Regions from separate parts of the Homo sapiens genome. Here region 2 is linked to region 1. A link means that fine-mapping ties the variant in region 1 to the expression of a gene that starts in the linked region. Tissue or cell type: whole blood. Region 1 holds a variant in brackets; the other region holds the start of a gene. All regions are shown on one strand. Distances are from middle to middle. Region 1 holds the start of LOC124901092 (a long non-coding RNA gene). Region 2 holds the start of ARAP3 (ArfGAP with RhoGAP domain, ankyrin repeat and PH domain 3).

Region 1 (5,376 bases):
AATGTGGCTTGCTCTGTCTTAACCACTTCTCTTTTCTGCCTTCTGAGGGTTCAGTGCTGGAACACCTAAATGTTTTGAGAAGGAGGAGCTTCAGGTGTCTTCTGTCAGAGCTGGAGGGGGGCCAGGGGCGGAGCCTATGTGATCTGCTGGAAGCACTCAGTTTTCTGTTATTTGGGTGAGAGTAGTGGCTTCCTTATTTTCAGGCTCAGGACACTGGCCTCCCTTTACACCACCCTATTCCATGCCATCTGTTATTGACACCCCACTTACCTTAAGGTGCTGAGAGCTTTCCAAACACAGAATAGCTCCTGAAGGAGGAGGAGGGGGAGAACCTGCAACACTTTTGCTCCTCCCAGAGGGTCCTGGAGGGGCAATGAGAGTGACACCTGACACAGGAACCTGGGGGTTTCCAAGCTTAGCCACCATCTATAAATTCACCAGATACTTATTGTCTGGTTATTCGGTGTCAGGCACCTTTCCAGGGCAGGGCTGCCATACAGAGTTGCATGCTGCACAACCTTCTGGAGGTGCCAATCATATTGTAGACACTGTACATGACATGACTGGGTGCTGGGAATGTCGTGGTAAGCAAGACCAACCTGACCCCTGGTCTCACAGAGGATGGAGTCCCACAGAGGCCTCAGTCAGGCAAGGCAGGAATGACCTTACAGTATGGCCAGGGTGGTGATGGGGGAGGAACAGGGGCTGTTGGGACTTGCAGGAGAGGCCCCAAGACTATATTTGGCAAGTCAAAGAAGGCTTCCTGGAAGAAGTGACGTCTAAACTAAGGCTTGAAGGATAAATAGAAGCAGGCTGCTTAAGGGGGAGTGTTCCAGGCAGGAGAAGCATGAGCAATTAATTATAATCCAAGGTGATACAGGCTGTAACATCAACATGAACACAGAGCTGTGGGAGCCTTTATTCATTCTATCAGTCGTTTACTCATTAAGGAGATGGGGAATAGTTATGCCCGGAAGCTGGAAAAGTTTCACCCAGGAGATAACCCTTGAACTGGGCCTTGGAGGATAAGTAAGGGTTTTCTGGGTTTAGAGGGGCAGAAGAAGGGGGAGAGAAGCATCTGAGGAGACAAAACCACATGAGCAAATGCATGCGGTTGGAGGTTTTAAGCATGGTGCCTGCACAAAGCAGAGGTTTAGGACACCTTTCCCAGGCTACTCTTGGTAGCTCTTTGTCTCTCAAACCTAAACTTGATATTTATTATTCACTTTTAACATGACCTCATTCGTTAATAAGGGTTCAGATAGGAATGTTGGATGTATGCATGCATGAGTGCAGGAATCAGTGGATGAGTGGAAAGACTAATAAATGCATGAATGAGGGAATGTATGAAAGAATGAATAATAATACTTAACATTTTATACATGCTTTCCATGTGCCAGGAATTGTTCTAAGTGTTTTTTATTTATTAAATCATTAAATCCTCACACAACCCTAGGAGGTAGGATTTATTATTATATGCATTTTACAAATGGAAAAAGTAAGGCATGCAAAGTTAAGTAATGCACACAGTGCCACACAGCTAGGAGGTGGAGTGCGGGGACAAGGGTTTGAACAGAGGCAGTTTGGCTCCAGAGGATGTTACAGCCTGGGTCCCAGGAACAAATGCTAGGAGTTGGGCAGTTCCGCATTTATCCAGATAACTCCTCTCTCACTCCGTAATGGTTTCTTGGCTAAGCCTCCTCCAGAAACGTGCTGCTTCCTTGGAGCAGACCTGGGTCCAGGCAGCCAGAGTCTGTCTGGGAACTGCCCTGGCTGGTGGGGACACACAATACCTGCAGCCCTCGCAGGGCAGCTGCAATGTGGTGAGGATGTGTTTCTCCTCCCCAGAAAAGGCTGGGTGAGAAAGTAGGGCCTTTAGCTTGCACAGTGGAGAGCATCCTTGCTCTGGGAGGGCCTCTCTGATCACTGAAAAAGAAGCTTGAAGTTTGCCTTGCAGTTGATTGTATTAGCATTTCAGAAGAATCCCCCTTCCTGGGAAGTGTATTAACGATTCACTCTGGCTGGTCTCTCACCCGGGGCAGCCTCTTCGTGAAGTGCCACAGATTTCCTAGAAATCCTCTGAGACATTTTGACATTCTGATTGTCACTGCCA[A/G]TGTGGGCTGCGAAGGAATTAATTGACACAGATGAAACCCTCAATTTCCAAGGGCTGTGTAATAAAATAAAGGTTATTGTATGATTGCAGATTCCACCACTAATGAAAAAGGGCTAAAGACCATAATGACCATATGGCATGCTTAGTGAGTGGGGACTCACTTTGATTTTCACAGGCAACCATTCTGAACTTTAGGGAATATTAAGGGTGATAGTTATTATTTATCGAGAATTTATGATATGTTAGGTACTTTACTAAATGATCTATCTATATATTATGTATTCCAACTCTATGAATGAGATGTTATTTTCATCTCCATTTTACGGGTGAATAAACTGAGGCAGGGAGAGGTACAGTAAACATGGCTAGTAAGTTGGAGAGTAGAAATAGACAACCTTATGGCTGAAAGATATTCTATTTTCTTGAGGATGAAGGATGATTGAAATACCTGGGCAGGCAGGGTTAAGATATGGCTAAGCATAAGGAATTCTGGCTGGTAGAGTATTATAAGTGTCTGTACACACTTTCTAGACACTGAGAGAACACCACTGCCTTTTCTCTGAGACCACAGGAATCCCATCCATCCATCTACCCATTCATCCAAACAAAAGAGATTCACCCATTCATCATCCACCCACCCATAGATCCATTAATCTGCCCATCAATCCACTCATCAATTTATCTATCGTCCACCCATCCATTCATGCATCCATTCAGTTAGTCATATATTCATGTATTCACTTATTTATTCAACTCAGGGATGTCTCTGACTACCCCTCCCCAGCTTCTGTCATGGAGGTAGGTGCCCCCCTTTCCTATAAGTGCCTGCTATGACAGATGTAGCAGGTGGAGGAAAAGCAGCAGAAGAACAAGGTGCTGGGAGATACAGTACCACCTCCATAATTTGTAAAGAGTTCCTTTAACTTTCTCATCCCCAGTCTCCATATATGTAAAATGGGAATAATATTTGCAGGCTGTTGTGAATTTAAAGCAAGCAAATGTGTGATATGTTTTGGAAATATGAAAGTTCTGCATAAATTTATGTCTGTATCATCATTATCATCACTAGTGCAGTATGTACTCAAATCTATGACTCTCTTAAGTTTGAGAAGTCAGCATCTGTAAAATGAACCATTTCTGATTTTGTTTTAAAGAAATTCTTTAAAATTTATAAACATGAAATTCAGTAAAATAAAATTACTTTAAATCATGCAATTGTGCAGTTTTATAATAATCAGATCTATTTATTCCACATTCTCTTGAGGCTACAGGAAGTTTTGGAGATTAGGAGTTGGAAAGGGACTTGGTAAAAAGGGATACTTGATCATGAAACATCAGTCCTGTAATTCCTGGCTTAAGGGATAGCGCTCTCCAGAATAATATTACATATCAGGAAGACTGTTTAAGGCTTATTTCTTGTTGGTTATAAGAATAGGTGAGGGAAGGCCGGGCGCAGTGGCTCAGGCCTGTAATCCCAGCACTTTGGGAGGCCGAGGTGGGTGGATCACAAGGTCAGGAGATCGAGACCATCCTGGAGAACACGGTGAAAGCCCGTCTCTACTAAAAATACAAAAAAATTAGCTGGGTGTGGTGGCAGGCGCCTGTAGTCCCAGCTACTCGGGAGGCTGAGGCAGGAGAATGGCGTGAACCCAGACGGCAGAGCTTGCAGTGAGCAGACATTGCGCCACTGCACTCCAGCCTGGGTGACAGAGCGAGACTCCATCTCAAAAAAAAAAAAAAAAAAGGAATAGGTGAGGGAAGACTGTAAGGAAATATGTGCCTGAAAATCCAGGAAAAGATGAATAATCAGGCTACAAGATGAGCAGGAACTGCTGTAAATATAGGCTGTGTATCAGTCAGTGTGGGTTACATTATGTTGCAGTAACAAACAGTCCCCAAATCCCTGAGGCCTATGACAAATGTTTATTTCTCCCCTATATTACATATCTGTCATGGGTCAGCTGCAGCTCTGCTCCCCTGCTTTCTTCACTCTGGAGCCCAGGCCAATAGAGGAGCACACTGATTCTTAAAGCTTTCCCTCATATTTTATTGGCCAAAGCAAATCGCATGGCAGGCCTCTCATCAATGGGAAGTATGTTCCACTTTCAGAAAGGGCACCCAAGGGAGGAACAGCAAATATTTTGACCAATAACACAACTTTCCATACACATTGTAACTGAACTAGGTTATTTGAACCTCGGAGTGGCTTAGAGGAAGGACCTTTGGAGGAAGAGGTGGTAGCTCAAGTAATTTAGCTTCTCTCTGTGTCTGCCTCTTCTCCTCTCACCACCCATTTTCTATGTATTGTGGCTTTTGCTTTTGTGTCCCTCTTTTTTTTTTTTTTTTTTTTTTTCTGAGGTGAAGTCTTACTCTGTTGTCCAGGCTGGGGTGCAGTGGTGTGATCTTAGCTCACTGCAATCTCTGCCTCCTGTGCTCAAATTCTCCTCCCTCCTCACCCTCCTGAGTAGCTGGGACTACAGGAATGTGCCATCACACCCAACTAATTTCTTTCTTTTTTTTTTGGAGACTAGAGACTTACTCTGTCACCTAGGCTGGAGTGCAATGGCGTGATCTCGGCTCACTGCAACGTCTGCCTTCCATGTTCAAGTGATTCTCCTGCCTCAGTTTCCCAAGTAGCTGGGATTACAGGTGTGAGCTACCGCACCCGGCTAATTTTTTGTATTTTTGGTAGAGATGGGGTTTTGCCATGTTGGCCAGTCTGGTGTCGAACTCCTGGCCTCAAGTGATCTGCCTGCCCTGGCCTCCCAAAGTGCTGGGATTACAGGCATGAACTGCCACACCTGGCCTGCTTTTCCATCTTGAGATTCCTGTTTCCTCATGACTCTGGCTTCCCCTTATGGTCCTTTTGCCCTCTTTCTCCCTTATGACATTTTACCTTCTGATTTTGCCATTAATTAGCCAGAATTCTTTAGTGTCAATTGCTAGAAACCCAATTCAAAGTAGTTGAAGCAAAAGGGAAAAGAAGAAAATTTTTGGCTCATATATGAAAAATCAAAGGTAGAGCTGGACTTCAGCATGGCTAGGTCTCTGGGCCTTGATAATATTCTTGCCATCTCTCATCTATTCTTTCCACTGTGTTAACTACATCTCTGGGCAGACTTTCCCATCTTGTTGATGGGATGGTTGCTATGGCAGAGGCTCCTGGTTGCCTGACAACAGCTGTTCCCCTTTTCTTCCAATGTGGTAGAATATTTTAGTTGGCAAGATGGCCTTTCTTGCAATTAGTTGTGCTTTAGGACTAA
Region 2 (5,305 bases), 37 kb before region 1:
GCTGGGCTCAGCCCAGGTCTCTGAGTGGTGGCAGGGCCACTGAGTCCACCAAACACGGTCCTGGGCTTCGGCACGGGCTTAGGGGGCTGGGCTTGCGGGGCTGGGCTGGGGGATGGTTCCATGGCACTATCTGATTTGGGATCCAGGGAGCCCTCTTCGGTGCCTGTCTGTAGCAGGCGTAGAATGCGTTTCCGGTGCCCTGTGGCGCTGATGCCCAACTGCTTCAACTCCTCGTGGCCCAGGCCCCGGGCTGCACCTGCTGTAGCCAGGCCATGCCGTCGGAACGTGTCTGCATACTGCTCCAGGTGCACCGTGGCCAGCCACACAGCGATGTCCAGGTCCTGAGGGGCAGCCATGGGGGCTCAGGCCATTGCTGGGGGGAGGGGCAGGGTGAAGGGAGGGCTCAGGCTGAGAATCCCCCTCTCTGCCCCAGAGTCTGAGGCCTGGACAGTGAGCACCAGCCTCCAATCTTCCTCCAAAGAAAGATGCTGAAAGGCCTGCGATCTGGAAGCAGAGCCATCCCAGAACAACAGCAATGGCTCTCTACTTAGGGAAGGGACTTCATTTGAAGTTAAGGAAACTGAGGCCCAGAGAGGGGAAGGGGCTTGCCCCAGGTTCACAGTAAGTCAGTGCTAGAGTTGGCCCCTCAGTTCCTGCCCACCCTGGGTCTGGGTCAAAGCTCTGCTCCTGCCTGACTGCACATCCAACTGAGTAAGCATGGGACAAGATGCTAGAATGCTGTGGGTCAGAGTGGGATAGGGAGATGCAGAGGAGGGGCCAATGATGTGGCCAATCAGCTCTGGAGTAAGGTAGGGAGAGGGGCAGCCTAGATAGGAGGAAGGAGGTGCAGACGCCCCCTCCCTCTTGTTTCCAGAGCCGATGTATGCAGGCCTGCCGTCCTAATCCTGGTTGTTCCCAGTCCCTCCTCCCCTTCCACCTATTGTCTCTGCTCAGACTTCCTTCCTGTCCCTCCAGCCCTGGCCGCCTCCACATCCTGCCTGCTTTGGTCAGGCTGCCGGGAGAGCCCTAACCAGTCCTAATGTGTGGGGTCCCGGCCCTGGGTGGAGGCTAATTGAAGAATAAGGATGGGGATGCCAGAGAGATGAGGCCTGACCTCTGGTCAGGGGTACTCCAGAGGCTTCTGGACTCTCTGCCCACCGGCAGCATGTTCACATGCTGTTCACCTGTGTGTGCACATGCCCTGTAGCGATTTGGCAGTGTGAAATGCCATCCCCCCACCTCTGCTTTCTCCAAGCCTTCCTTTTCTGAGCTTGCCTTTTCCCTGCTCATTCCCTTGGGCTCAGGTCTCTGTGCTCTGTCCCCCTTCCACCAGCCTGACCCCGACCCTGACCCTGGTCTATTTCATAGACCTGTCTCTAATTCTGTGGCCCCTGAGTTTTATCTCTGCCTTGTCACTGTCCCTGCCCCATTCCATCTCAACCTCTCAATTCTTCTTTGTCCCTCTCCTTGTCCCACCCTGTTTTGCTCTCTGTTATTAAGCTTGTCCTTGACTCAGTCTACAATTCTAACCAGATCTTGAGTTGTATCTGTGTCTCTGTCTGCCTCTGAGCCTGGGTTTCTGTCTTCCGCCTCGGCCTAGGCTCTCTCCCTGTTACTCTTGTGCTCTGTCGGTGACCAGGACGCCCTCTCCGTCCCAGCATCACTGCTGGCCTCCCTCTGCCTCTCTCCAGCTGGGCCTCATTCCCAAGCCAGGGCCCGCGTGCTGAGCCTCGGGCCCTGACTCAGGGCCCGGTTTCCCGGTGACTCAGGCCGGGCTCGACAGCACGGGGCTGGGAGCTGAGGTGCTCGCGGGACAGGAGTGGCGGGGGCGGGGCGGGCAGTGGCGGGCAGCGCAGGCTGCGACGAGGGAGGGGGCGAGGAGGGATGGGGCAGAGGCCGGGCAGCAGGAGGGAGGGGCGGGTCGTGGCAGGGATGGGGAGGGCCGCCGGCGCCGAGGGGGCCTGGGAGCCCACGAAGGCCCTCGAGAAGGTGATGGGGAGGAGTCTGGGAAGCAGGGACCCGGGGGGCGCGGGGGTCCTCACCTCACTACGCGGCCGCCGTCCGCTCGCGGGTGCCCGCCGCTCGTCCGAGGTTCTGGGTCCCGCCGCGCCGGCCCCGCCTCCCCTCTGCCCTCCCTCGACGGGCCCAGCCCCGCCCCGCCCGGCCGGTTCCCTCCGCGGGGCCCCGGCCACTCCTTGTGCAAGCGCAGGCCTCCAAAGGGTTTGGGCTTCTTGCCCAACCGCCGCGCTTATCTCCGAGTCTGCCCCCAGTCTGCCCTCTCGCAGGCCGAGAAAGGACCAGAACACGTTGGGACGAAGACAACCTCAGGGAGAGGGACAAAGAGGCAGAGACCGGGACGGAGACTGGGACGGAGGTAGAAACTGAGAAAGGGAGAGTGCCAGGGACGGCTTTGCATCCTCTCCGCTGCTCCCATGCCCTCCAGTCCTGCCAAAAGGGAGGAGGAAAGGTCGAGCCCTAATCCCCCAGGGCACCTCTCCCACGCCCGGAAGGGTGGCTGGACCCTGGCAACCAGTTTAGTGTGGGGACGGAAGCTGGACATCCAGAATTGAGACTTGGCCTGGGCAACAAGCGCAGAGGCCCAGCAGAGGGGTACCCGTCTGTTTCTCCCCACTTCCATCCCCAAGGGCCCGGCCTAGGTTCCTTCGAGGGATGAAGGTCCGCAAGGCACATCCCTACTTCCAAACCAAGGTTTGGGGCTGCCTTTTTGGGACAGGCGGACGCCCTGCAAGCTCAGTGACCAAGCAAGCAGCTGTTTCATTCATGGGAGAAGCCGCCCCTTCTCCCCAACTCCCACCCTAAAATTTCAGGGGGGATGCCGGGGAGGCCTGAAGAGGAATGGCCCTTCTCTCCTTCGCTAATCTTGCCGGAACCCCGGTCCTGGAGCCTGTCTCCCAGGGGCGGAGGCACTTCCCTCTCTGAGCAGGACCAGTGTTTGGGTGTGGGGGGGGGGTGTTTGTGTGTGTGTGTGTGTGTGTGTGTGTGTGTGTGTGTGTGTGTGTGTGTGTGTATGTGTTGGGGGTGGCGGGGGCGCTGGCCGGCTGTGTTTTCCTGTTTGTATGAGAGGAAGTTGGCTGTGAGTCAGCAGACACAGGAACTGTCAGTAGCTAGGGGAAGACCCCTGCCTCAGGGGAAGAAGAGGGGAGTGGGAGGAAGTGGTTCCCACCTCTTCCAGCTGCCTCAGCTAGGGGAGGGACTGTCATCTTCAACCTACTGGAGCCCCACTTTCCCGGCCTTCCCTTTGAGAAAGAGAATTATAGTAATAAAATAATAATTGCAATAGCCATAATAAGGGCTACCAATTATTGAGAGCTGACCGTGCTCCAGGATCTATGTAAACATTGCTTTGCAAACTTTAATCCTCACAAATATCCCTACAAATAGGAAATTTTATCACCTCTATTTTACATATAAGGAGACAGGGAGCATTAAATAACTTGCTCAAGACTCTGCAGCTAGAAAATAGCCAACCCTCCAAGTCTATATCTATAACTACCATGCTCACCTACCACCCTGGACAGGACCCCTGCACCATGTCCTTTTTTTCAGATGGGCAACTGTGGTGGCAGTGAGAATGCTCCTCACAGATCTTACACTGTGAGGAGTGAAATTAACCAATGGCCCCAGCTGCTTCTCTCTGAAATCTAAGGCCAGCTTCCCACTGGGCTGCTCCCAGCCAGTGACAGAGCTCAGCAGAGATCTAAGGCAGACCCATTCCTGGGAGATAGGGGACTCCTTTGACAGCTGACTTTGGATCAAGATTTCCCAATGGCTTTGCTGAACTTTCCTTTGACTGGTGTTTTAGGATGCTCCTCTCAACCTTTATTCCTTCCCTCTCTCCTTCACAGCTCTCCTAGCTCCAGGCTCCCTTCCTCTCTCACAGGCATCTCCCCTAGTCAAATCCTTGCATTCTGCCTTGGCAGCTTCTTCTTTAAGGACTCAGACTAACCCAGCAAAATAAGGGAGCAGGAAAAGACAGTAAAGGGCACAGGGAGTTTTGAGGAATGGATGCCGGGGAGTTTGGGTCAGGGGCTAGATGCAAGAGTTCTGAACCTTTTTGTGCCATGTTCTCCTTTGGCAATACGGTAAAGTATGTGGTCTCATCTCAGAATAATATTTTAAAATGCATAAAATAAAATATATAGGATTGCAAAGGAAACCAATTATGTTGTAATACACATATAAAACCGATGTGATATAGTAATATATGTGCTTCTTTATTAATGCTTTAAATAAGATCTAGTGGTAGGTTGATACCTCACATAACTTTGATGCAGTGATGAGCATAAATGGTATTTCAAAAGATCTGCAATATTGTAATATGATATAAAAATATATGTGATTTCTACTGGTGACAAAGCCATAGTTATGGCTAAAATGACTGGTTTGTTGCTATTGTCATAATTGGAGGAAATGTTAAATTTCAGCTAGAGATTAGTGAAAGTAATATTCTTTTCCCATCCAAGTCCACTGACTCCAAGTTAAGGACACCAATGCCAGATGATGGGGCAGAGCCACAGAGAGGGAGACCTGGCTTCCTCCCTCAGACCCCACTTCCCTTCTTTGGCTCAATGATATGGGGCAGGTGGAGGCTTCTGGCCCCTGGCTTGTGTCTTCCTGAGTTCAAGCAATTCTCGTGCCTCAGCCTTGTGCCTCAGCCTCCCGAGTAGCTGGGATTACAGGTGCCTGCCACTACACCCAGCTAATTTTTGTATTTTAGTAGAGACAGGGTTTCACCATGTTGGCCAGGCTGGTCTCAAACTCCTGTCAGGTGATCCATCCACCTCAGCCTCCCAAAGTGCTGGGATTACAGGCGTGAGCCACCATGCCCGGCCGAAATTAGTAAATCTTAAATCTTAATCTTAACACATAGGACAAAAGGGACACTAGTGAGCAGAGGAAGAGGAAGAATGAAGCAATGAGGAGATGTGGAAGGGAATTCTTCAATAGCCCCTTCCATGTCTCGATTTGTTCCCCACTCAAATGATAGACTATTAAGCCACAATCACTTTGGAGGCCACTTTGTTCACCAAAAGTGGATGGTATGCAGTAATTAAGAACAAGGTCTCTCGGCTAGGCACTGTGGCTCACACCTGTAATCCCAGCATTTTGGGAGGCCAAGGCAGGAGGATTGTTTGAGAGCAGGAGTTTGAGGCCAGCCTGGGCAACATAGCAAGACCTCGTCTCTACTAAAAATTTTAAAATTAGCCAAGTGTGGTAGTGTGCACCTGTAGTCCCAGCTACTCAGGAGGTGGAGGTGGGAGGATTGCTTGAGCCAGGAGGTGGA

The links.
Region 2: it holds the start of ARAP3, and the variant in region 1 is fine-mapped to the expression of ARAP3 in whole blood (INTERVAL, PIP 0.97).

What each region holds. Positions count from the first base shown.
Region 1 is chr5:141,717,184-141,722,559 of GRCh38, forward strand. It overlaps LOC124901092 (a long non-coding RNA gene), which reads right to left and starts at 3,625. Exons shown (of 2, transcript XR_007058973.1): 1 at 1-3,625. The variant A/G (reference allele first, on the strand shown) is at 2,114.
Region 2 is chr5:141,680,131-141,685,435 of GRCh38, forward strand. It overlaps ARAP3 (ArfGAP with RhoGAP domain, ankyrin repeat and PH domain 3), which reads right to left and starts at 2,100. Exons shown (of 33, transcript NM_022481.6): 1 at 2,043-2,100; 2 at 1-373. The coding sequence starts at 356. RefSeq lists a silencer at 2,100-2,149.